Linked DNA regions of Homo sapiens: all the other regions are linked to region 1. Evidence: fine-mapped expression QTL. A gene starts in region 1. Each other region holds a variant in brackets. All regions are shown on one strand. Distances are between the middles of the regions. Region 1 holds the start of GLB1L2 (galactosidase beta 1 like 2). Region 2 overlaps B3GAT1 (beta-1,3-glucuronyltransferase 1). Region 3 holds the start of LOC124902798 (a long non-coding RNA gene).

What was found. PIP is the estimated chance that this variant, and not a neighbour inherited with it, causes the effect.
Region 2: its variant is fine-mapped to the expression of GLB1L2 in cerebellum (GTEx, PIP above 0.99).
Region 3: its variant is fine-mapped to the expression of GLB1L2 in whole blood (INTERVAL, PIP above 0.99). The same link has a PIP of 0.9 or more in nasal epithelium and sun-exposed skin.

The regions. Positions count from the first base shown.
Region 1 is chr11:134,326,177-134,336,616 of GRCh38, reverse strand. GLB1L2 (galactosidase beta 1 like 2) reads right to left here and starts at 4,629. Exons shown (of 19, transcript NM_001370461.1): 1 at 4,470-4,629. The coding sequence starts at 4,555. RefSeq lists a silencer at 4,480-4,779.
Region 2 is chr11:134,379,881-134,390,320 of GRCh38, reverse strand. It overlaps B3GAT1 (beta-1,3-glucuronyltransferase 1), which reads left to right. Exons shown (of 6, transcript NM_054025.3): 2 at 2,381-2,773; 3 at 6,133-6,641; 4 at 7,315-7,611; 5 at 8,297-8,397; 6 at 9,574-10,440. The coding sequence starts at 2,662. The coding sequence ends at 8,383. Among named protein-coding and RNA genes, the nearest start is that of B3GAT1, 27 kb to the left of the region's middle. The variant T/ACT (reference allele first, on the strand shown) is at 8,015.
Region 3 is chr11:134,369,717-134,378,869 of GRCh38, reverse strand. It overlaps GLB1L2 (galactosidase beta 1 like 2), which reads right to left. Exons shown (of 19, transcript NM_001370461.1): 11 at 8,985-9,065; 12 at 8,471-8,577; 13 at 7,722-7,862; 14 at 7,378-7,449; 15 at 7,040-7,118; 16 at 5,062-5,149; 17 at 4,614-4,725; 18 at 4,152-4,268; 19 at 2,546-3,898. The coding sequence ends at 3,812. It overlaps LOC124902798 (a long non-coding RNA gene), which reads right to left and starts at 2,074. Exons shown (of 2, transcript XR_007062961.1): 1 at 1,616-2,074; 2 at 529-806. It overlaps B3GAT1 (beta-1,3-glucuronyltransferase 1), which reads left to right. Exons shown (of 6, transcript NM_054025.3): 6 at 1-362. RefSeq lists an enhancer at 1,510-2,409. The variant A/G (reference allele first, on the strand shown) is at 3,480.

The DNA.
Region 1 (10,440 bases):
TGGAAATGTCTATCAAGATTTAAAATGAATCTATCCTACGGTCAGCAATTCTACTTATAGAAATACATCCAACAGATATCTGCAGCAGCTTTGTTTACAGTAGCTAAAAGATTGCAAACAATCGATGTCCATCAGTAGAAGGCTGTTTAAATAAATTATGTGTCTAATGGACAAGTGGGATAATATGTGTAGCTATCTTCTTGTATATGCATAGAATATTTCTGAAAGAAGCCATTACCAGTAGTAACAGCTGATATGAATAGGGGATAGGGAAGGGTGCCTAGCCTAGGGGCCAGGAATGGGAGTTTCTTTTCACTTTATTCCCCTTCACACTCTGAATACTTACCATGTTCATTAATTGCCTACTCACAAAATAACTTCTTAAGGGAAAAAAATACAATCTGTGCTTGAAAGGAACAAGCCCACTGACTGTTTCGCTGAGTGTCAAAGAACAGAAGCTGTGAGTATCAACAAGGAGTCTCTAACAGGCAGACACGAGTCAAGAAATATCTACCTCGTTAGCAGGAGCCTCTAAAAACACCTGCTGCCTTTCTATCCCAGGAGACATCCACACATGAGAACTCTTTTTCAATACGGTCTTTAATATCCAGAGCAATAGATTTAAGCAAAAGCTAAAACTGAGTGGAGAGGAAGCAGCAAATATCCCAACATTGACACCAAAAAACCCTGCCCCTGCTGGTGATGGTGGAGAGGGAGGGAGGGAGGACGTGCCTAGACCCCAGAGTCCTTTTCAGGTCCAAATGTTCTCAAACCTTTCTCCGCAAGCTACAGCATCTCCTGAATTCTTCCCAGAAGAGCGTCTGACATGACCTCGTGGAACTCTGCACCACTTCATCAAGGACTACATGTTTTTATTTCACTTGCCACTTCCTTACCTTAAGGTGGGAAGAACCCTTTGGTCAACTTTCTGCTATTTCTGCAGCCCAGGCTCTTTGTCTCCAATCTTCTTGGTAGCCCAGTCCCTCCCTTGAATCACACCTATACCAATACTATGGCTGCTCCAAGACAACTCTGGTCTCCTTCTGCTGGTGGCTAGCATGGTCCTGTAAGAATCCCAGAGCCAACTCGATCTTCCTAGCACAGGGTGATTCAGACATCCCTCAACACCTGTATCCAACAGGTGATCACCTGCTGAAAGAGACACTTCCCCGATGCTGAAAACTTTACTACTACAAGATGAAAGGAACACTGTTCAAAGAGTTTGAACATTCCATGAAATATGACTCAGGCCTCAAGCAGAGAAGAGTCCTAGAATAGGCAAGGCCCATAAAATCAATTACCTCCCAGAAGCTCCAGAGGAGAGGCATGATTTGGCCACATACCCTTGGAAGACAGGACTGGCCATGATTCACATAAAAAAAAAAAAGTGACCTGCATTGCTAAGTTAGCCACCTTGTTCAGGAGAAAGAGTTTGATACATCTCCTCCTTTTCCTTTCTATAGGAAGAATTTGGGGTCTGGAATAAAGAAAACAGCAGGGCAGGGCAGTGTGTGAGACGGACCTCAGAGAAGAAATGAACTTACCTCTTAGGAGCATGATGCTGGCTGCCCACATGAAGGCTTTCCCCTCTCCCAACTTTCCCAGCTAAAATTTCAGGTATGAGAGATGCAGCGTTGCCTGTATTCTTGCTCGGTGATTCATTTATATTAAGGAAAAAATCATGAATGAGAACCATGCCTTTAGATAATATCAAGCAGGCATTCTTGTGTTCATGGAGTGCGAATAGGAAGAGAATGAAAGGCAACTGGCTCAAAGGCACGGTTCGCACTGATACGTGCATCGCAGACCTCAAAATAATACTCTGAGTGAAAGAAGCCAGACCAAAAAGGAAAACATGCTTTAAGATTACAATTCTATAAAACACTAGAAAATGCAAACCAATATATCGTGTCGGAAAGCAACAGATCAGTGGTTGCTTGGGGCTGGGGAGCAGGGAGGAGTAGGAGGGAGGGATGACAGAGAGGTACATGGAAACTTTGGGGGCTGGTGGCTGTTTTCACAATCTTAACTGTGGTGATAGATTCACAGCTGGATTTAGATATGTGTCAAAGCTTATCAAATTGTACATATTAATTAAACTCCAATAAAGGTAATTTTTAAGAAAGACCACTGTTTACGCTTAAAAAAAATAAAAATAAAAATTCTAAGACTGAAATCCTCCCCAAAAGTCAACCTGGTCATCCTAGTCTTTTGATATGATGTAACCCACCAGCTATGACTGACCGTGAACCAGCCCAAGGAAAAGTTGATGAAAAAAAAGAAAAGCTATAGCCAAACATCCCCCAGCCCATGCCAGCCACTGTCCAAATACCTGCCTTCTGCTACAGGAAAGGGGCTGCTCCTGACAGCTCGGCTCCACAAAGAGTGAACTTGGTGGCCAGTTTCCACGTGACCTATATTCCACTGGCCACCTCAACACTGCCCAGTAACAGCTGGGAGAGGCCCCACCTCCCACTCAGTTAATGACCCAGTCAGAGCTGGGGCAAGACAGGAAGAGGGAAAGACAAAGAGGATGTTCTCCTCCTGCCTCCAGAGATATTACAGCAACTCATACTCACTGGTGTCCAGCCCAAGTCAGACAGGAGGAACTGGCAGAATGTACCCATGAGGGTGAAAAAATCAAAAAGATGCCAAAAAGACACGTATTCCACAGGATCTGAAGACACGGCCCTGAACTTGGTTCAGAGCTCCTTGAGCTTCTGTTCTACCTGCTAGAAGGATGGAGAGGCAAGAAAAACATCCTTCCCAGGCAGGCCAAACTGTTTTCACAGAATTTGGTTGCAGCTCTTTATTCTCTGTTGCCATTCCACCTGCTCCAATGGCCCAAGACTGACTCCTAGTGCGGTCACCCCACCTAGGTGGGGACACAGTTACCTCACCTCAAAGAAGCTCAGGCGTCTTCCCAGCTAGGTCAGCTCCCTGCCACCTCACCTCTGTCCCACCAAACAATAACAAACCCTCAGCCTCCTTCGCATACCTTTTCCTGGGGACTTTTTGGGTGTACCACTCAGCCCATCTCAAGCCCACAGTGCTGCCCCAAATAGTGACCTGCCTGGGTCCCCTGCACGGACTCCTGTATCCCTGACCAACAACAGGCCTGCAGCCGCTAGCCTTTCTCTTGGCAGCTTGCACGCCTTGCTACCCTGCTGTATGCAGGAGGATCTGCTGCCGCTGCTCTGAGTAATTCTTCTGGGGTTTGCGTAAGCCTTGCACAGGGAGGAAAGCTGAGCATCCCACAGGAGCCAGGGCCAATCTTCAGAGAGGAATGGCTTAGAGATCTTAGGCAGGACAGAAAACATCTTGGGAACAACCGGAGAAGTTAAATGCCTGAAGTTTTCTGGGCCCCAGAATGAGAAGAAAATCCGTCCTTCTCCCAAACAATATCATGACGTCCCCACTATCTCAGAAACAAGAATCCAGTCTTGACAAGGTGTAAACATAGAGTTTGTCAGTGTGTTCTTCTGGCCACAAAGGACTTCCAGATATTTATCTCCATCAAAAACTTCCCTGTCTCCCAGGGGAAGTGCAGAGAAACTAAGAACTTAGTTTCTCTAAGTAAAAAAGAAGCAAATGACAAAGCCGAGCGGCGTAGGGCCTGCCACCACTTCCAACCGTTCAGTTCATTCGATACTGCCGGTCGGCTTCCCACTGGAGGTTTTGAATATGGAAAGTGCTGACCTGAAAGATAGGGTCAGGGCTGTAGAATCCTTAAAATAAGCACAGTTTAGAAAAATGCTGGGCTAGGGCACCCAGAAAACTTTTTCACAGGCTGTGGGTAAATCACAGTATCACTGAAGCCACTCCTTTGCCATAAACAACATTTGGAAAAGGGGGAGAGGAAAGGGTGAGCTGGTAACAGGTGAATGGTGGGAAAGTGGAGAGAGACGACCTATCAGTCCTACTGTGCAAATAAATCATGGCCCGGGATCTTGGAGGCCCACGGACACTGTTCTTACGACCCTGCCAGGCCAGCTGGCTAGACCATACCTGCCAGGCTGAAGCGCCGGCCTCTGCGGAATAAGGCGCCTCCCAGAGGCTTGGGAGGAAAAGGGGGGCCTGGGGGAAGGGCAGAGGGAGCTCTCCGCGGAGCAGTGGGGACGGGGCCGCGATGGGGTGCGTCTGAGAGGGCTCTGACGGCTGGAGGGCTGCGGGCGTCCACGGGGGGCAGAGCCCGGCGTCACAGGCGCGGCGGGGTGGGCGGCTCGGGGCACAGACGCCGGCTCCCGAGGGCACGCCGGGTGTCGCCCAGAGGCCTGGATCGCGCGGCAGGAGTAGAGTGCCTGCAGCCGCAGGGGAACTCGGGGGTATTGGGGAGCTCCCAGAAAGAAGCAGCTGGGGCTGCTCCCCCCGGGAACTCGGGATTCGCGGGTCGCGGGAGGAGAGAACCCGAGGTGCGGAGGGCTGGGGAATGTGGGGTCCGGCAGGTGCTGCGCGAAGCTCTCTCTCACCTGCGGAGCACCAGGAAGCCCAAGACGACCAGCAGCAGGAGTCCCAGCGTGCGGGCCGGCCTCCGCCGGAGGCTCCACGTGGTCATCGCGTGTTCTCTAAGCGCGGGGACCCGGGTTCCCACTCCAGTCCGCACTCAGCCGCGCGCGGGAGCCTCGCCGCGGGGGGCGGAGCCGCGCACTGGTCGCCTGGGCAACCGGCCCGCCGGCGCTCATTGGCTGGGGCTCGCGGCTCCGCGCCTGCAGCCCTAGGCCTCGCGCAAGCGGGGGCGGGGCTGGCCGGGGCCGGGGCGGGGCCTCTGTCGGGGGGGGGGCGGGGCGGGGCTGGTGGGCGGGGACGAGGTCTCGGTAGGAGAGGGGGCTGGCGGGGGCGGGGCTGGCGGGGCGGGGCCCCGGCCGGGGGCGGGGCGGGGACAAGGTCTCGGTAGGGGACGGGTCTGGCCGGGGCGGGTCCCCAGTGTCGTGGAGCGGTGCAGAGTCCGCCGTCTTTCTGCTCGCGAGGCGCAGGCGGGTGCGGGAATGCTGCGTACCTGTCAAACGCCGAGGTAAAGTCGCCCCTCGCAGCGCTACATCAGGAAGAACGTACAAAAGGCGTCCGCAAAGCAGGGGCAACCAACAGAATCTTTTAAAACAATTCAGATTCTGAAGCAAACAACTTTTTCAATAACAAATCATCCTGTGAAAAGCCAGGATTTTGAAGAATTGTATCTGGACACATTTCAGTGTGGTTCATGTCTGAGGAGGGGGGGTTCCAAATATTTTCTGTCTTTGGTTTCTGCGAGTCTTACTCTGGCCTTGACTCCAAGGGCTTCCAATTTTTTATTTTAAAAAGGTCCATATAAAACTCTCACATTTTAGGAAAGGAAGAATATCATTCTTATTCTGAAACAGAATGTATGTCCCAAAGAACATGATGTAGTATTTCGGTGCAACTTACACTGTAGCAATCACAAACCCAACTCCTCCCGGGAACAAAATTCAGATTTTACTGAAAGAAACTCGAGGAAGGGCAACGTTTTCCAGAGCATCCGGGTTTGTCGAATGTCTCCCTTGCCGCATGCTTTGAATTCATTTCCTAAACGGGGGCATAGTTTTGAACTTGTAAAGCCGACAGGAACCAAATGAAATTGCAGATCTTGGAACAAAGACACAGACTTGGGTATGAAGTGTCCTTTGTCTAGCGTTAAGCACATATTTAGTCAAGGAGCAAAAGTTAAATCAAAGAGAGGCAAAAACAAACGAACAAACAAGAGGAAAAAAACCCTGGCAGAACTGGGGAGGATAAGCTGGGCTTGGAGCAATCCGGGTCTGACTTAAGCACCGCAAACATTCCCAGAGGCGCGCAGAGGGAGGCCCACTCCCGTGGACGCGCTCCAAGCCCGCTCCTTTTCTCCATTGGGTAAGGCTATGATTGCTTGATGGCTATGAAGTCTGTGATGGAAACATGTTGGTTTAATTGGAATATACCAGCTAGCCCCGAAGCGTGTGGAGAAATTGTCAAAGGCTAGCCCCTTTGCCTGCAGGGGACCATCCGAAAGACATGCACCCCACATTCATCCTCTCACTTCTGGTCACGTTGAACAGTGGCAGAATCTATCAAATATAAGGGAATTCTCAAATGGTTTAAGCAATACAAGCATCTCCATTTTTCTTCAAACGTTAGCAAAAACTTAACATGGGTTGTGAAAACCGTGAACTCCTTGGCCCACCCTTGTATCCTTCGTTTTTATTTGTGCGAGAAAAATATACATAACTGAGTGTTTTCAAAAAAATTTCCCCTTAACCTTGTGGGATGTTCAGAACTAGGGACACACCCTGCTCACAGTCTAGGAACAATTTTACTTTATCTGGGCTTAATGATACCACAGAATGCTACAAAGTTAGCACTAACCCGAGATGCGTCTTGCTCATAGGCTGAGACTTTTTTTTTTTTTTTTGAGACAGAGTCTCACTCTGTTACCCAGGCTGGAGTGCAGTGGTGCAATCTCAGCTCACTGCAATGCCTCCCGGGATGCAAGCTATTCTCCTGCCTCAGTCTCCCGAATAGGTGGGACTGCAGGCACCCACCACCTTCCCCGGCTAATTTTTGTATTTTTAGTAGAGACGGGGTTTCACCATGTTGCCCAGGCAGATCTCAAACTCTTGACCTCAGGTGATCCACCTGCCTCGGCCTCCCAAAGGGCTGGGATTACAGGCGTGAGTCACCATTTCCAGCCTGAGACTTTTGTTTTTTAAAACATTAGGCCGGGTGCGGTGGCTCAAGCCTGAATCCCAGCACTTTGGGAGGCCGAGGGGGGCAGATCACGAGGTCAGGAGATCGAGACCATCCTGGCTAACACGGTGAAACCCCATCTCTACTAAAAATACAAAAATTAGCCGGGCGTAGTGGCGGGCGCCTGTAGTCCCAGCTACTCAAGAGGCTGAGGCAGGAGAATGGCGTGAACCCAGGAGGCAGAGCTTGCAGTGAGCCGAGATCGTGCCACTGCACTCCAGCTTGGGCGACAGAGCGAGACTCCGTCTCAAAAAAAAAAAAAAAAAAAAATTAGCAAGATACTCCTTCAGTGTCTCCTTTCCAAAATGTTTAGTGATCTTAACCCAAAGCAGACAGTGAAAATACTCAAATCCCTGGGAACAAAAGCTACAGTTACAATGAGCTGGCATAAGAGTGGGGTAAAAAAGTGGTCTGCCAAGGTGCTTGGCTTGGTAATGAATCCCTGGTACACAGGAATCATCCTCTTCCCAGGCCTTCTTTCTAGTGTCCAGGGTTTAGAAAATACAAGAAATGCTTTTTAAAAAAGTTAAATCTTGTTGGTGTGCCATTTCCATTGCTCTAAGTCAGAGCTCCAACAGACCCAGAGGGCACAGTTCCTTCCTTGAAAATTCCTGTATCACAGATAATCAGCGGGAAACCGAAACACATACAAAATGCACACACAGGAGAATAAAAACCACACTCGCTCAAAATCAGTACAGTGAAGTCACGTGGGAAAAGCGATCATGTCAAACTAGTCTCATTTGCTGTTTCACTTTTTATTTTTAATAGGTAACAGGTTTACAGATCAGTTATTCATTCACGTAACTCATTTTTGAGGGCACTCTGCTAATGCTTTAAACACAGGATATCTGAATTTTAGGAAAACATTGGCAAAATTTCTTTTAGTCATGAGAATAAGATGAAAAATGTGGCTTCTACGATAGTACAGTCACTTGGGCCCCTGGACCAAGATATAACCCTCTCCTCCCCACCTCCTCCTTATGGACAGACACCTCTGTCCAGCAACCCCCATCCACCCTCCCCTCAGGAGAAGCAAAGTCCAGTTATGATGTCAAGTTGCCAGGGGTCTTGAACAAAGAAATTCAGAGCACAGGAGAATTCCTGGGAATAAATGAGGGCCATTTCAACCCTAGCCAAAACAAAATAGAAAGTCCTGGAATGGAGATTTGGCCTAGGAAAAAGAAAAGAGAAGGCAGATTTAAGATAAAGGAAGTAGACAAAGCTTTTCAGCCCCAAAGATATGTGAGTGGGACTGGAAGGGGCCTGTGCACATCCGATAAGGATGCACAGAACTTGATCTTTGGCCTTACCAAGCCTAACTATCATTTTGTAGGCTCAGCCTTTGAAGGCCTAATAGCCAAAGATCTAATTCTGCAGCATTGTATTTATTAAAAAGTAAATGACAAATTTTAATGACCATAAACAACATACTGAACACTGTTTCACATGCTTGGGATGTATCAGTGGACAGAACAAAGATCTCTTCTCTTTGAAATTTCTGTTCTAGCTAGGGAAGAAAGACAATAAAACTTAACAGAATGAATAAGTAAACTGTAGAGTATATTCAAAGGTAGTAAACTCCATTGCAAAAATTTAAGAAGTAATAAGGGAGCCAGGCCCAGTGACTCACGCCTGTAATCCCAGCACTTTGAGAGGCTGAGACAGGCAGATCATTTGAGATCAGGTGTTCAAGACCAGTCTGGCCAACATGGTGAAACCCCGTCTCTACTAAAAATACAAAAATTAGCCAGAAATTGCTTGAACCCTGAAAGTGGAGGTTGCAGTGAGCCAAGATCATTCCACTGCACTCCAGCCCGGGCAACAGAGTGAGACTCCATCTCAAAAAAAAAAAAAAAAAAAAGTAATAAGGGAAGGAGGACTGGGAATGTGGTGGGGAGGGGTCTGCAGAGAGGCGGTCTCCCCGGAAAGACATTAGCTGAACAAAGATCGGAACACAGTGGGAGTTCTCCATGCAAGCGAACCAAGATAGAACCTGGAGGAAGCACTGTCCAAGCAGACAGAGCAGCTCGTACCAAGGCCCTCAGGAAGGAGCATGACCTGGTGTCCCTGGTGTCCAAGGAAAGGCTAGGAGGACAGCGTGGGAGGTGATGGCAAGAAGGCAGGAGATGAGGACAGAGAGATACAGGGGCCTGATCATGCAGGGCCTTTAAGAGCAGGGCTTTGACTCTGAATGAAATGGGAGCCACTGCATGGTTTGAACATGGCGGTGATGATAACTTAGAAGGATCACTGGTGCCATGCAGTAATCCATATGGGAGACGATGCTGGCTCAGGGGACAGCGGTGGAGGTAGTGAGAAGTGTTGAATTTTTGGGAGTATTCGGAAAGCAGACATGAGAGGGTTGTTGCAATTCGTGGATTGTTTGTAGGGGGAGAGAAATAAAGGGGGCTTAAGAATGTCTCCCACAGGCTGGGCCTGAGAAACAAGAAGTGCTGGTCGCTGTGACCTGAGATGGGGAAGGTCATGGGCAAGTTTCTGGGAGACATCAGTAGCTCAGCTTGGACCTGCTGCATTGAGTGGAGTGGAGTGGAGACACCACGCAGGCTGCTGAACATCAATCCTGATGGTCCAGAAAGAGGTTTGGGATGGAGATACGAATTTAGGAGTTGACAGAGAGCTGGTATTTAAAGGCAAGAACCTGCACCAATTAACAAAGTGCAGACCGAGAAAGGGGATGGGGACAAGCCCTGGCACACCTAACACTGAGAAAAGGCAAGGAACCATGCCACCAACAGGTGAGGTTAAAGCAACACTGAGGATCGACCCGTGGATTTAGTATGTGGTAAACGTTGGTGAACTGGACACAGGCAGCTTGGGTGGAGTTGGGGGTCATGGGATTTGGGAAGCCAACTGGAATGGGTTCGGGAAGGAAGGGTGAAGAGAAATCTAAGACCATTAATGTAGATGACTCTTTTGAGAATATAGGCTAGAAAGGGGACACATAGGCTGGGTGCGGTAGTTTACGCCTTCAATCCCGGCAATTTAGGAGGCCGAGGCGGGTGGATCACCTGAGGTCAGGAGTTCGAGACCAGCCTGGCCAATATGGTGAAACTCCATTTCTACTAAAAATACAAAACTTAGCTGGGCGTGGTGGTGGGTGCCTGTAATCCCAGCTACTCAGGAGGCTGAGGCAGGAGAATCACTTGAACCAGGGAGGCAGAGGTTGCAGTGAGCTGAGATCACACTACTGCACTATAGCCTGGGCAACAAGAGCAAAACTCCATCTCAAAAATAAATAAATAAATAAGAAAGGGAATACATAAATGGGATGGTAACTGGGGCAGAAGAGGGAACTGAATCAAGAGCCGTGTTCTATTTTCATTTCTACTACAGCATGCTTGTATGCTGATAGTGATCTTGATCAGCAGACAAAACTGGTGAGGTAGGACAGACCGTAGAGAATTTCTGTTGTGAAACCCTTGAGGAGGTAAAGTGTAGGGACAAGGTGACCAAGTGAAGGGATTAGCTTTAGGTTGGAGCATATGAGATAGTTTAAGTCCTCACTGAACTCTTGACAACAGAGTGATCACTGAGGTTAATTTCAAATCCACGTCGTAACCCTGCCAGATGTGAGAGTGAGGCGTGTCACCGGAATTTGTTGTTAATATCAGAACACGCTTACCCCTCTGTATCTGTGGGTTCTGCATCTGTGGATTCAACCAACCATGGATTAAAAAT
Region 2 (10,440 bases), 54 kb before region 1:
CCAAAGAACCAAAACGTGTCTTGACACGCAGCCCCATGCAGCCCCAGCAGTGGCCTGGGTGTGGAGGGACAGGCTAAATCTGGGGGATGTGGCATGAAGTCACTTGCATCTCAGACCACAAGACCCAGCAGGCATCCCGTGTGGGGTTCTAGGCTCTGTCCCTCACTGGGCCAGCAAAGAGGAGTTTACGGGCGGACACAGACACACACGGCCTAGAATGTCCACTAGGGGAACTACGTGCCTGTGACGTTGAACCCCAGTGGGTCTTCCACTCCCCGGGGAATGGGTGGGGGAGACTCTCTGGATGGAGTGGGCCTCTGATGGCGGGGTGTGGGCAGGGGATGCCGGCCGTCCTGGGAAACCACAGTGCTCCTTAATGGAGGGGATGCCGGCCGTCCCGGGAAACCACAGTGCTCCTTAATGGAAGACAAATCCTGGTCTTCCACAGGCGTCAGAACTATTTGGAGAGAGGACCCGGTGAGGAGAGGAAAACACGCTATTTTGGAAACTCAGGGGCTAAAAACCCTCCTCGGCCATAGCACTCGACTCTGCCTGAAATGGTGAGCACACGTGAGCTGGGGCAGGAGCAGGCAGCATGGCCCCCAGGTGAGGTACTGTCCGTATCCAACACTGGGCACTGGGACGGGTGGGCACAGTGAGGCTGGCTGGGCTGCCCGAGGCTGCCTGCCCTCCCCACCACCCCCACGGGTCCCTGCTGCATCATGCATGGTGCTCAGCACAGAAGTGAAAAGGGAGGAGAAGAGGATGTGACAGTTTCCAAGGCGGTCAGGAGGTCTCTTCGCCCAGTGTCCTTGCCATGTGAGAGAACGGTTCCCAGAGATGCTACCAGTGGACCCTCTGCAGGACTGAGGAATCCCAGTGGCTCATTCTCCTCACTTGGGCCCCCTGCTGTTCTCATTTTGGAGGACTGTCTCCCCTCAATGTGGCAGCCCCTGCGGGGACCCCTCTTCTTGCTGCTGCCCAGCCCAGCACCTGGTGCTCTGTCCTGCACAGAGCGGTGCTCCACAAGGATGTCCTATTGACACGGAAGAGGAAGGCACTCTCGTACTTCCCCCCAGGGACCATCCCAGAAACATCTCTTCTTTGTCCTCAAAAGACTGTCACCAAAATGCAAATTGAAACCACAGTGAGATACTATCTCACACCAGTCAGAATGGCTATTACTAAAAAGCCAAAAAATATTAGATGCTGATGAGGCTGCAGAGAAAAGGCAACACGTATACTCTGTTGGTGGGAATGTAAATTAGTTCAGCCACTATGGAAAGCAATTTGGAGATCTCTCAAGAACTTAAAACAGAGCTGCCATTCTAGCCAGCAGTCCCATTACTGGGTATGTATCCAAAGGAAAATAAAGTGTTTCACAAAAAAAACACCTGCACCTGTATGTTCATCGCAGCACTATTCCCAATAGCAAAGGCATGGAATCAATCTAGGTGCCCATCAGTGGTGAACTGGGTAAAGAAAACATGGTGCATATACAGCAAGGAATACTACACAGCCATAAAAAAGGACAAAATCATGGCCTTTGCAGCAGCCTGGATGCAGCTGGAGGCCATTATCCTGAGCAAATTGACACAGGAACAGAAAACCAAACACGATGCATTCTCACTTATGAGTGAGAGCTAAACACTGGGTACTCATGACTGTAAACATGAGAAGAATACACACTGAGGACTCTCAAAGGAAGAACGGCTGAAAAACGCCCTGTTGGGTACTATGCTCATACCTGGGCAGCGGGATTCATCATACTCCAGATCTCAGCATCACATGCAATATGACCCATAACAAACCTGCACATGTGCCCCCAAATCTAAAATGTTGAAATTATTTTTAATATAATAATTCGTGGTCCATATATGGTTAAAAAAAAGAAAAAAGAGAGAGAGAAAATAAAACCTCTCACCCCTTTATCCAGGCTTTGATAAGTAGCTGGCATTTTAGGGCTGCACGGGAGTTACCCTGTTTAATTCTGAGAATGACCTTATGAGGTAGGGATCCACAGTGCCCCATTTTATAGATGGGAAAACTGTGGCATGGAGAACGGAAATGACTTGGCAAAGGTCTTACAGCCTGTGGGTGGCACAGTTGGGATTTAAACCTGGTGTCTCTGCAGTCTGTGCTTCTGACCCCTGCACCCTACTGACTTTCATAAATGGAGCAGAGCCATGGCCCTGTGCCTGTGGGAAGGACAGAGCCCATTCCACTCTAACAGGCAGACAAAAGAGGTCCTCAGGTGATGGACAGTTGAGGCTCCATTGTGGAACCCCCGATGCTGTGTGTCCCAGAGCAGGGCCCAGCCTTGCTGGCATCCATTCCTATACCTGGGTCTCTGGCTATCCGCTTCTGCTCTCTCTTGCAGGTGTCCACCCCCCAGGGTTCCTGACCCCTGCCCCTGGACAGCGACCCCTTCTCAGACTCCAGTTGGGCCGGACTCTCCAAACCTGCTTCCGCAATGGGTGGGTTGTGAGTGCTGGTAAGACCTGCTAGCCAACATTCAGCTGCTCTGTCCTCTCCATGCCTGGCCGGCCCGGCCCATGCCTGTTCTTTTCTCCCCTGTGCTGCCGCCGCCCGTGGCCGCCCCTCTCCTGAACTTACCGCCACTCAGGTAATGAGGAGCCGTGGGTGCAGCCAGCCTTGGAGATGCCGAAGAGACGGGACATCCTAGCGATCGTCCTCATCGTGCTGCCCTGGACTCTGCTCATCACTGTCTGGCACCAGAGCACCCTCGCACCCCTGCTCGCGGTACATAAGGGTGAGCACGCACGCATGCCCTGCCTGCCCAGCTGGGCCTTGGTAGTGACAGTGACCACAGCTGACACGCAGGGTTCTTGCTTGCACTCACTTAGCAGCTAGGAGGAACCACGGGATCATCTAGGCCCCTTCATGAGTCTTGCACCCCTTTGGGAATGGGAAGCTAATGGAAGCTACCCACACAGTTTTAAGATGCCTGGGATGGTAGGTTGGCAGACACCAAGACAGTTGCCTTGAAAGAAGAGCTTGTTACTCTCAGCACCCAAGAGGAGGGGGCACGCCCTGCCCCCTGGGGAAGTGCTGAGGTCGGAGGTGGGAAGTGAAGGGAGGGGGAGGTGGGAAGTGGAGGGAGTGGGAGTCTTTAGTGTGGTTTTGGTAGGAAGGAAAGTGGTTTTCATAGGAAGGGAAGGGCGAAGCACTGTCGGCAGCTGAGCTGGCCCAGAATTGCATAGTCTGAAGAAAGTCAGTGGGTTTAGGATATGGGTGTGGTTTCTAATTGTCTGGTATCGCCCTGGGGTGGTTTAGGGCAGCGGAAGATTGGCTTGGGTGGGAGAGCTCCATAAAGGTGGTAGTGGGTATGAGCTCTAGATCAGGTAGTTTGCATATGAAAAGTGTGTTTGCAGGCAAGGTGTGTACTGTCACTAGGAATTAGCTAGTCCCGGGAGGGGCAGTCCCTCCCCATATCTGCAAGTCCCCCAAGATGTCGACGCATCTTAAAATACAGAAAAACTTAAAAAACAAACATCATTAATACACACACATACACAGAAAGACACGCATGTACAACTTCACATGCCATTTCATGACATGCAAGGAAAGCGACCATTCTGAAGTGGATGGTGGGGGAGGAATAGGATTTCTGGCCTGCAGTGTGTTTTAAACCCTTTCACAGAGAGTATATTGTTTGCCTCTCTTCTTTTCCTGTGTAGGAAACCCTGATCTAGTGCTACCTGGTGGAAATAGGGCTGGAGAGAGGAAAAGTCCCGTGAAGAACTAGTGGAAGAACTAGGGGTAGAACTCCTTTCCCCTGGCTCTGGGTCCTGGGTCGCCTTTCCCTCTCACTCCCAAACCTGCCACGCACCCCACAGCTGGCTGCCCCAGCTCTTCAGCACTTTGTCTCGTGCTTTTCTGCCCCCTCCCCCACTTACATGCACAGGCTCACGTGGGGTCAGGCAGCTGTTCGTTTGCAGCGTGCATGATACCACCTGGCAGTGTGATAAACAAGAAGGCAGCACCAAGCCCATGCAGAGAGAGGTGGTGAGTGCCTGTAACCCCAAGATGCAGGCAGTGTCCAAAAATCACAGCCTGAAGTCGTGCTGCTCCTCACAGTCAAATACCAAGTCCTGCAAACCCATAGCTGTTCCTGAAGCTTCCATGAGGAAGGGCCAAGCTCAACATTGCGGCAGCCCACTGCCCGTGGCTGGCACTTGGCGCCTGTCTTCCTGACATCATCCTCTCCTCCCGACCCTAGGGCCTCTTCTCTGTGCTTGTCAGTTCAGAATCATTGTTATCTTGCAAATACATCACTCCAGAGGGGTTAAAACTACTATATATAAAGCGACATGATATCGTGTCGATTGCGTTCTTGGCAGAGCTCCAGCGCTGGAGACGTCAGGCTGTTTGCTAAGCACTGATGGTGCTGCCTGAGGCTGGGGACTTGGCATTCTGTCTCCCCAGAGCATGCCAAGAGCAAGCGAATGAAAGCTGCAGCTGAGTGAAGTTAGGGTCACCAGGAGGCCTTTAGGACCCAAAATTGCAGACGCCCTGAAGCCAATGGGAAGGGCGAAGCCCAGGAGCACACGCAGTAGCCGTGCCCTAATGTATGGGGACTGTCCAAGGGCACAGGTCCTCTGCGGCCTTGGGATGATTTGGGTGGCAGAGAGGTGGACAAAGTGGCTCCAAACTTCCTCTCAAGGCCTCAGTTTCCAAAACTTGACTGCCCATAGGATGAATTAAGTCCTCTGTCTAGGTCAGAACCCTAGACACCCATCCCGCTTTCTTCCACGTTGCTCTTCTCACAGTTTGACCCCAGACTCCTCTAAGCAGCCCCCTCTGAGCGACTGCGTGTGTGCTGGTTTCCTCCCCCGACCCTCAGCAATTGCTGTGTGCCTGGTGCCATTTGCCCATGAGAACTCCTGAAGAGCCACGAGCAGGCCTCCTGGGTCCGTTCAGATGAGCTCCACGCTAGCGTGCCACACACCCCACATGCTGCCGATGACAGTGGCCGGAGGGAGGCAGCAGAAGAGCTGATGCCCGGGGTCCTCCCCTTTGGTGTGACTTGCTGGTTCTGTCCCCACCGATTGCCTGAAGCCAGAAGGAAGCAGAGTTGGCCACTGCCCTTCCGCAAGAGAGGAAACTGTGCCTGGCGGTGCTCTCAGCCCTTGTGGACTCATTAATCCACATAATAACTCGATAAGTTCGATGCTATTATTAGCTCCATTTTACAGTTGCTGAAATTGAGGCGCCAGAAGCTAAGCAGCTTGCTCAAGGGCACAGGGTTCGTAACGGCAGAAGTGGGCAGGGTCTCAGCCCAGGCACCGGGATTTCTTACCTTTACCACCCGACGGTAAGCTAGGACAGGAGGGCCACACCGTCATTGGTGCATGAGCCCTTCCGATGGAAGGACAGAATTTGGAGAGAAGGGACGCATGGAAAACAAGAATCCCAATGGCCCTGATTTCTCCTCTTGCTAGGACTGCTAGATCTACATATACCTTGGCAACTATGGGCAAAACCCACGAGAATAAAATGCGGTGAAATAGGAAGTTCTGCACCGAGATTCAGAGAATGCCTTACGTAAGGCCAGGAGGGAAGAGGCCCCGCTTGACTGGAGGGCTTGAGAACTCCGGGAGCTGCCTCAGGCTCCTGCGGGCCCACAGTGGGCCCTGGTTGCTGCCGCAGTGCTGCGGCCCTGGGGCTTTGTGGCGTCCACACCACAGCGGGGCAGTGCCACGTGCTCTGCTAGCCCAGCCCTGCACAGGGCAGTGTGGCCAGCTCCCTCCAGATGAGTAGGGCTAGGGAGGGGAGGGTCGGGACGCCTTTTCATAGGAAAGTCAGCACATTCAGGAACTGAGGATGCAATCTTGGAATATGGGCAACTGCGCTCAAATAGCTAGAGGGCTGCAAAGGTGGGAAGGAAGAGGTTATGTCTGTGTCATCAGAGCTAGGACCCTCCCAGAGAGGATTCCAGGGCTGCAGATTTCAACCTTAGAGCTAACAGGTCAGGCAAGGCGGGGGTCTGAGCAGCCCCTGCAGCGGGGGAGGAGGAGGGTGCCCTGGCAGGGTGGGTGGCGTCCCGCTCTGAATCCAGGGCCGTAGCCGGCGCTCTCCTCCCACATCGCCGGTCTCCCGACTCCGCAGATGAGGGCAGTGACCCCCGACGCGAAACGCCGCCCGGCGCCGACCCCAGGGAGTACTGCACGTCTGACCGCGACATCGTGGAGGTGGTGCGCACCGAGTACGTGTACACGCGGCCCCCGCCATGGTCCGACACGCTGCCCACCATCCACGTGGTGACGCCCACCTACAGCCGCCCGGTGCAGAAGGCCGAGCTGACGCGCATGGCCAACACGCTGCTGCACGTGCCCAACCTCCACTGGCTGGTGGTGGAGGATGCGCCGCGCCGGACGCCGCTGACCGCGCGCCTGCTGCGCGACACCGGCCTCAACTACACGCACCTGCACGTGGAGACGCCCCGCAACTACAAGCTGCGCGGAGACGCCCGCGACCCACGCATCCCGCGGGGCACCATGCAGCGCAACCTGGCCCTGCGCTGGCTGCGCGAGACCTTCCCGCGCAACTCCAGCCAGCCTGGCGTGGTCTACTTCGCCGACGACGACAACACCTACAGCCTGGAGCTCTTCGAAGAGGTGAGGGAGGGCCCGACAGTGAGCAGCGGGACCTCCGGCTGCGGGGAGTGGAGGGGCTTCCCGAGAAGGGGGTGTGGGTGCGGAGGCGCGCGCAGGGGGAACCCGGGAAGCCGGGCTGGGAGCGGGGCAGGCAGCAGAGAGCCAGGGAAAGGGATGGAACTGCGGGCTAAAGCATCCCCCACAAGTTAGGGGGAAGACAGGTGGCTCTGGAGCCCCTAAACCATATTCCTGGCCCTAGAGGTATCTCCTGAATGGGTTTGTGAGTAGGTCATTCTGCGTGACTACCAGAAACCTCTTAGGTGGAACAGTTGGAGCTCGCCTGAGTATATGGGCTGTGTTAGTCTCGGGGACAAGGGGAGTCACTTCACACTCTAGAGCGGGGAGACTGAAAGGTTTTAGACAAGGGAGAAAACAGCAGCAGGGCCACGCTGAGAAGGGGAAGACCAGGCCGTCTGAGAGGTCAGGTGTCCCCGGCAGCCCAGGGCAGGTTCTTCTCAGGTGCCCAACCCATGGGATGGGTCCTGGGGGCAGGGCTGTACTGGACACCCCCTAGGTGGCCGCGGCTGGCCATGGGCATAGATAGAGGTGGCTGAAGGATGTCGCCTCCCTTGGGCACGCGCGGCCGTCCTCATCTGCAGTGCCGGCGCCCTGACTCTGGACCCCCCCCTTGTAGATGCGCAGCACCAGGAGGGTGTCCGTGTGGCCCGTCGCCTTCGTGGGTGGCCTGCGGTACGAGGCCCCACGGGTGAACGGGGCAGGGAAGGTGGTCGGCTGGAAGACGGTGTTTGACCCCCACCGGCCATTTGCAATAGACATGGCTGGATTTGCCGTCAACCTGCGGCTCATTCTGCAGCGAAGCCAGGCCTACTTCAAGCTGCGAGGTGTGAAGGGAGGCTACCAGGAAAGCAGCCTCCTTCGAGAACTTGTCACCCTCAACGACCTGGAGCCCAAGGCAGCCAACTGCACCAAGGTGAGACCCTCCGCAGAACTGACAGCTGTGATGCAATGTCTCAAGTACATCCAGACCCTCCCTACAGATCGGGAGAAGGAAACAGAGGCCTCAAAATAGCCTGGGCTTTCTGGAACCCCCTCCCAGGAAGGCAGTGTATCACCTGTAAGGCAGCGACACTGCGGACAGGCAGGGAAAGGGAGAGCAATGGCCACTGGGGAGTTATAACCTCCCACAGAACAGCCGTGCTCCAGCACCTCCCTGCTGAGCACTCATGCACACACACATGCCTACGCGTGCACACATGTGCGCACACACACATGCAGATGCACACACATGCACACATATATGCAGGTGAACATGCACAGACATGCACATATACACATATGCACATGAACATGCATACGTATGCACACACACACAC[T/ACT]TGGGAAGTCTTGGGGCTTCTCTTTTCTGTAGTTCTAGACTTCCCATTTCCAGCAGGTATTCCGAAGGCATCACATGTAAAAACAGCAAAAATGAGGGGGTAGTCGAGAGCCACAGAAAATAAATAAAAAACAATTGAGAAAATCTTGATGGAACAATTGAAAAACTCTCGAAGGAAAAGGAGGGGCAGGAGAAATGTTTACACAGTGTGGGAGGGAGCAGGGAGGCAGCAGAGTGAGGTCAGGGGCCTGTCCCACCATGTTTTGCATCTCTGGGCACACAGATCCTGGTGTGGCACACACGGACAGAGAAGCCAGTGCTGGTGAATGAGGGCAAGAAGGGCTTCACTGACCCCTCGGTGGAGATCTGAGCCTCAGGATGCAGGTATGGGCATGACGAGGGTGGGCCACACACTGGGCAGGGCGGCACCAGGTTGGGCCGAATCAACTGTCTCATTCTTTTCCTCTTGGGCTTTCACTGTGGAGGACAGGGCAGATGTGGGCAGGAGTGGAGGGCGTCGTCACCACAGTCCCCTTCCCACTGGGCCACCTGAAAGTATCCAGGCATTAACTTTCACCCACGCAGCTGGGTCCTTCTGCCACCAGACTCTTCAGAGGGTGTCACCTTCCAAACATCTTGCTGATTTTTCTGCTGGCAGTGACGCCTGCACCCCACAAGGCACTGCCATTCAGACTCTCGCTGGCCAGCGTCTGTCCCCCCAAGTCTGCCTCTTCCCCTGTGGATTCCTTCACCACGTGGCCATGGTGAGGACTCACGGACTCGCTGCTCCACAGCAATGAGCCCACGGCTGTCATAGTGAGAGGTAGCGCAGAGTGACAGCACGGACCCAGAGCCCACCTCAGCTCCCAGGACCCCTGCTCTTCACTGTTTGACCTGACTTGACTTTTCTGGGCCTCAGTTTCTTCATCTGTGAAGTAGGTTGCTGAGAGCACCTAGAACAGTTCATGGCACTTAAATCTCATCAGTGTGGCTATTTTTATTCAAGTCTTTAAAGCCCTCTCTGGAAGTAGGCCACAGGATCCACCTACACTTCAGAAGCAAAGAAATGATGTTGAGAGAAGCTAAATGAATGTTCCAAGGTGACACACTGGCACGAGTGAATTGTGCTGGGTGGTTGGCAAAGCCAGGCATTTTCAGGGGCTTTTCTGTGATCTTATCCTGTCTCTTAAAAGCAGCTGGTACTCCTGACTCCCTACTCTAGGTTATGCCAAACAGAGGTTGAGGCCTGAGACAGACATTTGTCCTCTTGCCCTGGAGCTAAGCAATAGCTTCTGTATTGTGTTTGCCCGCAGAGGACCACAGGGTGTCACTCAGTCACCTTGGCCAGCGCCACTTAGAATGCATCTGTACCGAGCCTCACTTCTGCCTCCTGCCCTCACTGCCCTCACTGGAAGCACCTTCCCCACCTGCCCCTCAGAAAGGCCCCCACAGGACCTGGGGGCCTGGGCTTTGCAGAGGTCCTGGTGGCCCTGCCTGGCCATTCCCTCCCCGGCCCCACCCTCAGCCGACACCTCACTCATTCCTCCTCTCCCCTCACAGGAGCCTCCTCCTCAGACCCTGTTCTTGGCCTTCCATCCTCTCCCCACGGCTGATGGTCCCTCCAAGGCCGACTCCTAAGGAATCACCATCACCCTCCTTTCTATTCTGGGGGCTTCTGAGAGAGCCCAGCCTGATGCCAGAACAAAGGACAGAGAATTTAAGCACAGAAATCCCAGACCTGTTGTTCTCTCCATCCAGCGTGACCAGGGCCCGAGAGACCTGATGGCCAGGGTGGGGTGTCCAGCACCAGCCAAGCTGGTGCTCCAGCGCACCTCCCCAGAGCTCCCCGCACTGACGGGGCTGCAGGAGCAGGTGCAGTGGGCGCCCACACTGGCCCTGCAGTGATGCAGGGCGGGAGGGAGATAAGAAGACCCCGCAGTCAAGTGGAGCATGGCCCTCCCTGGCTCCCTGTCCCTGGGCTCAGCACGACCACACAGGACACCCAGCCAGGGAATTCTGAAGACCAGAGAGCAGCCCACGGGCATCACGAGCGCTCTGCTCCTCTCCTGGGCCCCTGCTCTTCCCGAGAGCTGCCCCCAAATCAGACATACCTCTGTGGCTCTCCTCTGGTTCACGTTTACAGAGCATAAGGCTGTCTTGGATCCCAACAGGCACCCAGCCCTGCATGGGGGGAGCCTGGGCCTAATAGGCACCCCCTGTACCTCAGGCTGTGGCGGGAGCAGAGTCCCCCCCTCCGGCCCCTCTTCCTTTACCCCTTCTCCTCCAGCAGTGGCAAAGGGGTAGGCTCTAGAGCCAGCACAGGTCACTGCCTGACCTGGACTAAGAACCCCACGGCCCCACTGTCCACACACTGCCTCCCCACCGCCCACCTCGGCTGCTAGGCCCCTCGCCTGGACTGGACTGGGG
Region 3 (9,153 bases), 43 kb before region 1:
CAAAATGGGGACTTCTTTGGGCAGATGCTAGGTCAGTTGTTTTCACCTAATATCCTCTTTTAGCTGCATGTATATTTATTTATAATTATAACCCTGGTGGACTGCAGCCTTCATCTTTATTGGGAATGAGTTTGTTATAAATCAGAAATGGGTCCATGATGACCACTGTTTTCCAAACCCAGTCTGTTCCCTGCTCCCTCGCTGGCAAGCCCCACCACACAGGAGTGAGGCCAGGGGCTAGGAGTTCTAAGAACAGAGGCTGGGGTGAGGGTGGCACCCAGGCAGCTGCATCTGGTCTGTTTTAATTTAACTGTATTTAATTTGCTTTCAAAATTAAAAGTCAAATACAGTTTTTAACAGTCCTAATCCTCTTCAGCCCTGCCTTATTTTGTTCTCATTTATTAATTTAGCTACCCAACAAGTATGTATCAGGTGCCTGTTATGAACAGGCATCATTCTAGGAGCCGACACACAGCAGTGAGAAAACAAGGCTCTCATTTTCAAAGAACTGACCCACTGACGAGAGGAGACAGGCAATAACGAATGCATATTATTTCAGATGCAATCTGTTGTATGGAGGATGAGGGTGAGTCGGGGAGACAGAGGTAGCAGTGGAGAGGGTCAGTGCTCTGTAGGGTGACCACAGAGGCCTCCGTGATAAGTGACCCTTGAGCGAAGCAGCAACACCCTGACATGCAGCTCCCCGGGCCCAAGAAGAACGAACTCTCCACCAGGCGGAACAAGCGTTGCTCAGCCTGCTTACAGATCAGCAGGAAGGCCATCGGGCTCAACTGACGGGGCGGGGGCTGCTGGGGGCAACAGCAGTGAGGGATGTGGTGGGCGTGGGAGAAGGGAGTCCCCAGGCACCGGGTGAAACCAGAAGGCAATAGGGGGTCCAGTACGGAGGACTAACATAATCTATCCATCTCTAAGAAGAACTGCCCTGCTCCTCCACGGAGGATAAATGGAGAGGGCAAGGGCAGGTGGAGACGTGGCTCCTGGAATCATCCAGGCCAAGATGCAGTGGGCTGAGTGGGGGCATGGGGTTGGGGCAGAGAGAAGCAGTCAAATTTTGGCCAAGTTTAGGAGGCAGAGCCAGGAGGATCTGCTGCTGGATTGGATGTGGGAGATAAAGAGAGGGGTCCAAAATAGCCCGAGACACAGAACAGCACTGCCATTTCCAGATACAGGGCTGCGTGCAGGAGGGGTAATGTGGGGAAATGGAGCTCTGTGTCAGGTGCCTGTTAGACACATGCAGAAGAAAATGCGCCCCCACACACCTGGAGCTCAGGTGCAGCCCAGCATCGGCGGGCGCGGGTGTCCAACCTGTTTACAAACCACAGGTGCACGGGTGAGACCCTATGCAGTGAGTGTGGACAGAGGAAAGAAACAGCCCAAGGAGTGGGCCAGAGACCCCCAGCATTCAGAGGCTGGATATGAAGAGGGATTCTCCAAAGAGACCTAGATGAGGCCATACCGTGTGGAAGATAATGGAAACATCTTTAGTCAACGCTGGAGAATAAGCTCTGCCAAGAGGTACTTTGATAGAGAAGCTGAGCAATTAACTGGCAGAAAATAAGGGTGAGAATAAGAAGCTGGTGTAGGAAGACCTCACCTTAGGAAACCACAGTGTGTCCTGCTCAGGTCTGCGTGGAAGTGTGATCCAAGGGGCTTCTCCACCTTACAGGAGGATTTGCAGGAAGGTTCCCTTCCATTCCATCACTTTCTGACGGAACCAGCTCATACACAGCTCTGCAGAAGCACACACTCAGGTAAAGCGGGGCAGAAGACCCTGCAGGTGGCTCAGGCCACACCCAAGTAGCCCGAGTCTCATCCACATCTTAGCCCCATGCTTGTCGTTCCGAGGCAGTTCCAGAAGAACTGGTGAGTTTGGGCAAAACCAGGGACTCTGCCCCATGTTGTTCCCAAGCCACTGTCCACAAGCTTTCCTTTAATAAGCTCCATTTAATAAGCCCTTGACCCGGCTCAGCTGCTGGGCTGCACACCACGAATGTCCCCTGCACTCCCCCTGGGCAGCCACACACGGGCAGCAAGCCTGCTGGCCTCAGTGAGCTCCACGGCTCACCATCCCCCAGCCCACCTTCACGGGGCTCCCAGAGCTCTCGCTGTGCCGGGGATGTGTGTGCTACTTGACTTTCTGACTCTTACTGGAGATAATTTGGTTTTGGCAGTAGATGCCAGATGTAGTTTGTGAAGCAAAACTCAACCCCGCAGTTAACTCATATGGAGCGCCCTTGACTGCCTGGCAGATTCTTACCCCCGCCCACCAGCATGAGAATGAATTTGCATTTGAACTGTCCTCTCCAGGGCACTTCCAATCCAGAGACATTTGAAGGGAAGTCGGGGTCAGGAGGGGAATATGAGGCCAGGATCATGGCCCACCCACCCCAGGGACGGTCCCCATCTGGACCCCCAGGCGGCAAGTGGGGCCCAATGGGAACCTGACCAAGAAAACCAAGCTCTCAGACAGCCTTCCCTTCTGGCAAGAGTGGCACACATGACCAGAGACTATCACCAGAGGGGGTGTGATTCAAGGTTATAGCTTTACTGCAACTCAGGACAGTGAGCCCAAGCCAGGTGTTGGGCTGGGCCCCAGAACAAGGCTCAAATGCGGACTTGGACACACTTCGAAGGAGGGCTGCTCTGCCCCTGCTGTTCGGGCGTGGGGGGTGGGGGGCGGGGGCCACTGAGCTGGGCCTTCTGTCCTCCTCCCTGGATGTGCAGACATGGGCCATGGCTTCTGCCAGGACTCACATGTGAGCTGGGCCTTCTGTCCTCCTCCCTGGATGTGCAGACATGGGCCATGGCTTCTGCCAGGACTCACATGTGAGCTGGGCCTTCTGTCCTCCTCCCTGGATGTGCAGACATGGGCCATGGCTTCTGCCAGGACTCACATGTGAGCTGGGCCTTCTGTCCTCCTCCCTGGATGTGCAGACATGGGCCATGGCTTCTGCCAGGACTCACATGTGAGCTGGGCCTTCTGTCCTCCTCCCTGGATGTGCAGACATGGGCCATGGCTTCTGCCAGGACTCACATGTGAGCTGGGCCTTCTGTCCTCCTCCCTGGATGTGCAGACATGGGCCATGGCTTCTGCCAGGACTCACATGTCCTCCTCACTGAACACCAGAGACACCTGCTAACTTGGGAAGACGCAGGGTGAGGATTTCTGTTTCTCCAGCCCAGCCTGTCACCCTGTGGGAAGCAGCGAGTGGGAAGGGAAAGGGGAAGTCACATGTTTCTCACGCCGAGTTCCTTCCAGAATCCCAAAGAAGGCTCAGAAGGTTGTGAAGGAAGAACAAAGTCAGCTCAGGTGAGACACCCCTTCCCCACCCTCTACACTGGTGACACACCCAGGATTTCGGGGATAAAATGGGGCCATGAGGGATGTGGCCAAGCCTCCCAGGAACCAGCAAAGAGCACGCCTGAGTCCAGCAGATGCTCGCAGGGCTGTGACGTCC[A/G]GTGCAAGGGCACGTTTCAGCACTTTTTCTGAGGGCCAAAGGCTGGGCGATCTGATTAGCTGCTCCCACCCTAGAGACAGCCCGACAGCCTCGGCACAAGAGCAGGGCTGTAGGAAAGCCATCATCAACAAAGCCAGGCCCAGAGCCATCCCACCTTTCCCTGCAGGCTTAGGGTTTTGAGCTGAGACAGGGGCAGACTGTAGCCCCCAGTCCCTGAGGTTGCTACTTAAGGAGATGCTTTTGCAGTGAGGGGTGGGGCAGCAGCCACCAGGCTTCAGGTCAAGAGGAGGCGGCAGTCTCCCACTGGCACCAGCAGGAGGGGGTGCCACCGCTCACTTAATGTACTGGTTCCTGCCCAGGTGGGGGGTTTCCGTGAACTGTAATGCAGGGCCCGCCATCGTCTCCTCAAAAACGATGACCTGTGGAGAGAGGGCCCGGCTGGGAGGGCAGCTGACGTCTGTCCTGGAGCCAGGGGAGGTGCTGAGAGGTGGCAGGGTCAGAAGGAAAGGGTTTGGGAACCAGGCTGGAAGGGACAGGGACCAACAACTCGTCTGCAGCGAGGAGGAGGGAGGAAGAACCCGCTGACACGCCCCTCCACCCTGACCGAAGGCTCCCTGGGACGGCAGGTGGGCAGGGCGTCATGGGGAACAGGAAGGGGCTGGAAGCTCCCACCTGGTTGATTCCGCTGCTCAACCAGGGACCTGGGAGGTAAAGCGTCTTCTGGGGTCCAATGTTCCAGTAACGTCCAAGGTTCTGGCCATTGATGAATACAACCCCCTTCTCCCAGCCCTTGAAACAGAGGGGAAGGGTGTTCATCTACCACGAGAGCCACAGCAAAAGTGGAGGGAGACATGCATGCGTGCTTCTCTCAGGTCCAGGAGACCAAAGCGAGCTGTGTCTGGACAGCCATGAGGGTGGGCAGGTGGGATGCTCTATTTCCTGTCCCCCTAGTGCATGAGGTGTTTCTTCTGCTGGGAACCCACTCCTCTGGCCCAGGGAGGCCCCAGCGGCCCTCTCAGACCCTCTGGGCACAGAAGCCACCAACGACTCTCGCCAAGCTCGTGGCTTTGGCTCAGAGCCCTCCAAGGCGGGAGGCAGGTGGGAGAAACTGGCAGGGAAAAGGGCGTTACCAACCTCCAGCTTCAGAAAGGTGTCACAAGGGGTGGAGCTGATGGACAAGCTACCCAAGAAGAAAGCAGGTAATGTGGGTGTTTCTGGGAGGGAACTCCATTTGTCCAGGCCGAACCTAAGGACAGAACACAGAGAAGGAGAGGGAGGAGGCCCTTCTCAATCCACCAGCACAATAAAGCAAAATAAAAGGCCCTGACACCGTTTCCCCATCCAAGGCCCCCCGCCTCTTAACCAGGACACAGAATGGCAGCACGGTAGGATGCTGGGAATTCCTAGTCTGCAAATGCGGCTTCTAGTGCGGGTGCCACCCCTCACCTCGGCCAGCCGATCTGGCCCCTGGAGGCGTTCACACCTGGGTGCGGGCCAGGCCACGGTGCACCAGGGACCCCTGGGCCCCACCACACAGCACTATACCTGTGAGTGCAAGGGCTGGTGCTGGGCAGGGACCCACCTCTGAAAGAAGCTCTTCTTCATATCCAGGCTATAGATTCTGAAGTTTTTCAGGGGTGAATCATTCAGATAGAGATTTCCAATTAAGCCTGTGGGAGGGAGGCAGGACACGTGGGTAGCCCAAAGGCAGGGGCCGAGTCAGCTGGGCCGGGGCCACGAGGGGAAGCCCTGGGAAGCTGGGGTGAGGGGTGCTGAAGTGTACGCTCCCTGAGAAGCTGGGGTGAGGGGTACTGAAGTGTACGCTCCCTGGGAAGCCGTTCGCTTGCAAGCAAAGCTCCCTAGCAATTCTGTGGGGGACGGGAAGGAGGAAGACCCTAAGATTTGCCATGGGAAGGATATAGAGCTGAGGTGTTACAGGGCGAGAACAACCTCTGGCCTCTCTCTGAAGGAAGTTCCAGATGACCGAGAGGGTTCTGGCCTAGCTGCAGGGCCAGTTTCAGTGGGGCCCAAGCTACACAGACCTAATAACTCAGCCAGAATCATCTCTGCCACCTAGGATTAAAGCTGTGCATTAGGAGTGTTTGGACTGTGAGCAGATGGCACCCTCCCTCGGGCATCCAACAGGGAAGAGATGTGTCCTCTTGAGGAGCCACTCATCAGTGTCCCGGGGCCGGGCCAGCCCTGCCAGTCTCAGATTACAGAGCTGCTGAGTGGCTAGCTTGGGAATTTGGAGGCCGAGGACTGTGGAGAGGCTTTGCAGGGCCTACAGACTCCGAAATGGCAGGTGCGGGTCTATGTGGGCACGCGCATTTCTCAAGGGAGGTCTGTGACTTATAAACATTGAACTGTGATCCAGAGGACAGGACTCCACAGTGTGGGCCCAGGGGACCCTCAACAAGGGCTCAGGGAAGCAAAGTTAGGAACAATGGTCAGGCTGGTGCTCCTTCCAACTCCCAGGAGAACAACAGAAGTGAGGACAGGCCCAGAGAGGGAGCTGTCTAGGGTAAAGGAGTGTGGGCCTGGGTGGTGCTAGATGCCGCTCTGAGGCCCATCTAGAAGGGCCCTGATCCCCAGGATCCAGGCCCCAGTGTCTGGGCCACGTGGCTTTCCTGGCAGGCCACCAGACGGCTCTCGGAGGAAATGTGGACCAATAAGAGCTCTTCAAGTTTCCTCCGTCACAAACGCAGACACCGTGAGAGAGCTGGGAGGTCACCGGTGCTGCTCACCACAGTCGCATTCATTTTGTTCTGAGTTCTTTTTTTATAACTTACCTGAAACCACCCACATTTAGCTAGATTTTTTTTAAAAAGGAAGGGCTAAATTTGGGCACGGTGGCGGGCGCCTGTAGTCCCAGCTACTCGGGAGGCTGAGGCAGGAGAATGGCATGAACCCGGGAGGTGGAGCATGCAGTGAGCCGAGATTGCACCACTGCAGTCTGGCCTGGGTGAAAGAGCGAGACTCCGTCTCAAAAAAAAAAAGGAAGGGCTAAATTAAAGCATAAAAGATTTAGTAGGCCAGGAAACATAAAGCAAATTGGCGGCCTATTCCCAGAGGGGTACGCTACCAACAGGTGTTTTGTTTGCTGTATGTCCCGCATCCTCCTCCCCCAACATCTGAGATAAGCTTTCCCAAGATGGATCAAGAAGAGAACTTCAGTGTGGAGGCCCAAGAAGGCAGGGGTCTTGTGCCTTTCCTTGGATTCCTGGAAATCACATTCATTGCTCCTCACTGCCGCCCCCCCAAGCAGACATCCTTGCAGAAACCGACTGCAGCCCAGGGGAGACAAGAGGCCAGCTCAGTGTTCACAGTGTTTATCACGAGCACGCAGACGATGCACGCGTGCAGTGCTAACAGGACAGGGGCCACAGCCCAGCGGAGTTTCTCTGGCCCACTCAGAACTGGCCTCATGTATGGGACAACCCAGCCTCCACCTCCCTGCAAGAGGCCTCCATGGCCTGGTGGCCTGCTAGCATAGAGAAGCAATAGCCACCTGTGTGTCCAGCATGGCCACTCTTCTTTTGACACATTCTGGGACCCACCTTTGCGCTGGTCATCAATATTCTCCCCATAGTTGACTCGCCCACGATTCTCCACCAAGATCCTCAGCACGGTGTAACCCTGCCGGGAACACGGGGCTAACGATGACTGTCAGAAGGCCACAGCTGCCCCTCAGAATTTGCTTGTGGACCCCAGTTCTTCCCTACGCTCTGGGGATGGGAGTGTACATCCCAGCTGGGCAGAAAGCCACACTCGCCCTCTCCACCTACAGCTTGTGGGTAAGGAGCCACGGGTCTCCCAGGTTTTCCTCAGTGACTGCCCCCAGACTTCCTCGAAGCAGCGGGGGCTAGCCATCACCCAGCTCCCAAAAACAACGAACCTGGATCAGGGGGACAGCAATCTTCGTTGTCTTGTAGTCCAAGAATCCTATGGATACTGTGTTCACAAACACCTGCCAAAGGGAACAGGCAGGAACATCCATGACCAACAGGAGGAGGGTAAGCGGGACCTCCTCCAGGCCAAGAAGGGCAGCACGCGTGCCTGTAGGCAGACGAGGGGCCAGTGGGCAGAGCAGACATGAATGCCCCCTGAAGGCTCACAGAGCTGACTCAGAAGGGCCATTGTCACACACTGGTAAGAGCTGATTCTGAGGGGAGGGCATGAGACGCCTATTGCAGAGCTGCTCACCAGAAGGTCACAGGAATTTAGAAGAGAAGCTCCTACCTGCCCCCGATCATGCACGTGGCCACTGAGGATGCCAGACGAGGTGATGCTGGTCTCATAGAGAATGTACCCGAAGGACTGTCCATTTCCCCCATTGACTGGCAGGTTCTCCATGTTGATGGGCTTTTCAGACTTGATTGGCTGCGTACAGAAGAGATGGAGGGGTGGGCAGGCTCAGGAGGAGTGGGGTCACAGACAGACTCTGCCTGGGGGCTGGCACATGGGGTGGAAGCGGAGGTTTGGTGGGTGTTTTCTACTTTGACTTCTCATTGCACTAAACATACAACTCTCCAGGGTGACGGGGAAGAGGAGTGGGGCAAAGGGGTGTGCACCAGCAGAGTGCAGTCCGCAGGCAGGGGACACACATCACAGCCTCAGTCCGCCGGAGGAGGCACCCCCTTCTTGGGGAGGGGACGGCCTGTTCCTCTGCCCCTCACTCTCCTCTCTGAGGCTGGAGGAAGGAAAGGCCCACGGGGCCAGCCGCTGTTCCTCAGGGACCTCTGTTTCTCCCACTTCACACTCCAGCATGAGTCTGTCCTCTTCCCTCTGAGCTCCAAGGCCGGAGAGCAGACCCCAGAGCCACCAGGCACTGGCCTGCCTCCCCCCACACTCCCTGTCTGGAGGGGCTCCAGGCCCTGCTGCCCCGACGACTCTCACCTCCCGCCGACGACTGCCCCCAGCACTCACCTCCCTGCCAACGACTGCCCCCGGCACTCACTCACCTCCCGATGACTGCCCACAGCACTCACCTCCCCCAGGTACTTGAGGGCGTCCCACAGAGACAGGTACAAGACTGGCGTTAAGGGCTCATACGGCATCTTGGGAAGAAGGTCAGGTGGGGGAGGGAGAGGGATGCCTGCAACACAGAAAACAGGGTCACCCCCAACGGACCCAAATGTCACTGCCTGCTCGTCCTCCCCACCCGGCTCCCATCCACAGACCCGATGTGCTCCTGCGTCCCAGCACCAAGAGGAACAACAGGCTAGCTCTCAGCACCTGCTGAGGCCAGGGAGGAAGGCCAGGCCTGGGGGAAAGCCAGGGCGTTCTCCCGTCCTCCACAGGAGATAAGGAGCGTTAACACCTGTAACAGGTGAAGCCGGCAAGATGGAAACAGCCTCACACACCTCCCTGTCCTTGTCTAGGATATTCTTGCACGCAGATCAACTGGGGTCGAGGTGGGACAGTAAGGAAGTAACTCTTTAGGGGTCTGAGAGCAGAAGCGAGGGCCTGAGTTGGAACTTGAGTCTGCTGTCTGCTGGGTACCTGAGATGGAGCCGAAGAAGTCTCGAAGCTTCATGTACTTGGCCGTGTAATCGCCGGCTTCTGTCAGCACAGCATCATAGTCTGCAAGACACCGGGCCCTGTCATGGTCATTCCTGTCCCCAGCACAGCACATGTAGCACGAAGAACAGGGAGAAGCTTGGAAGGGCCA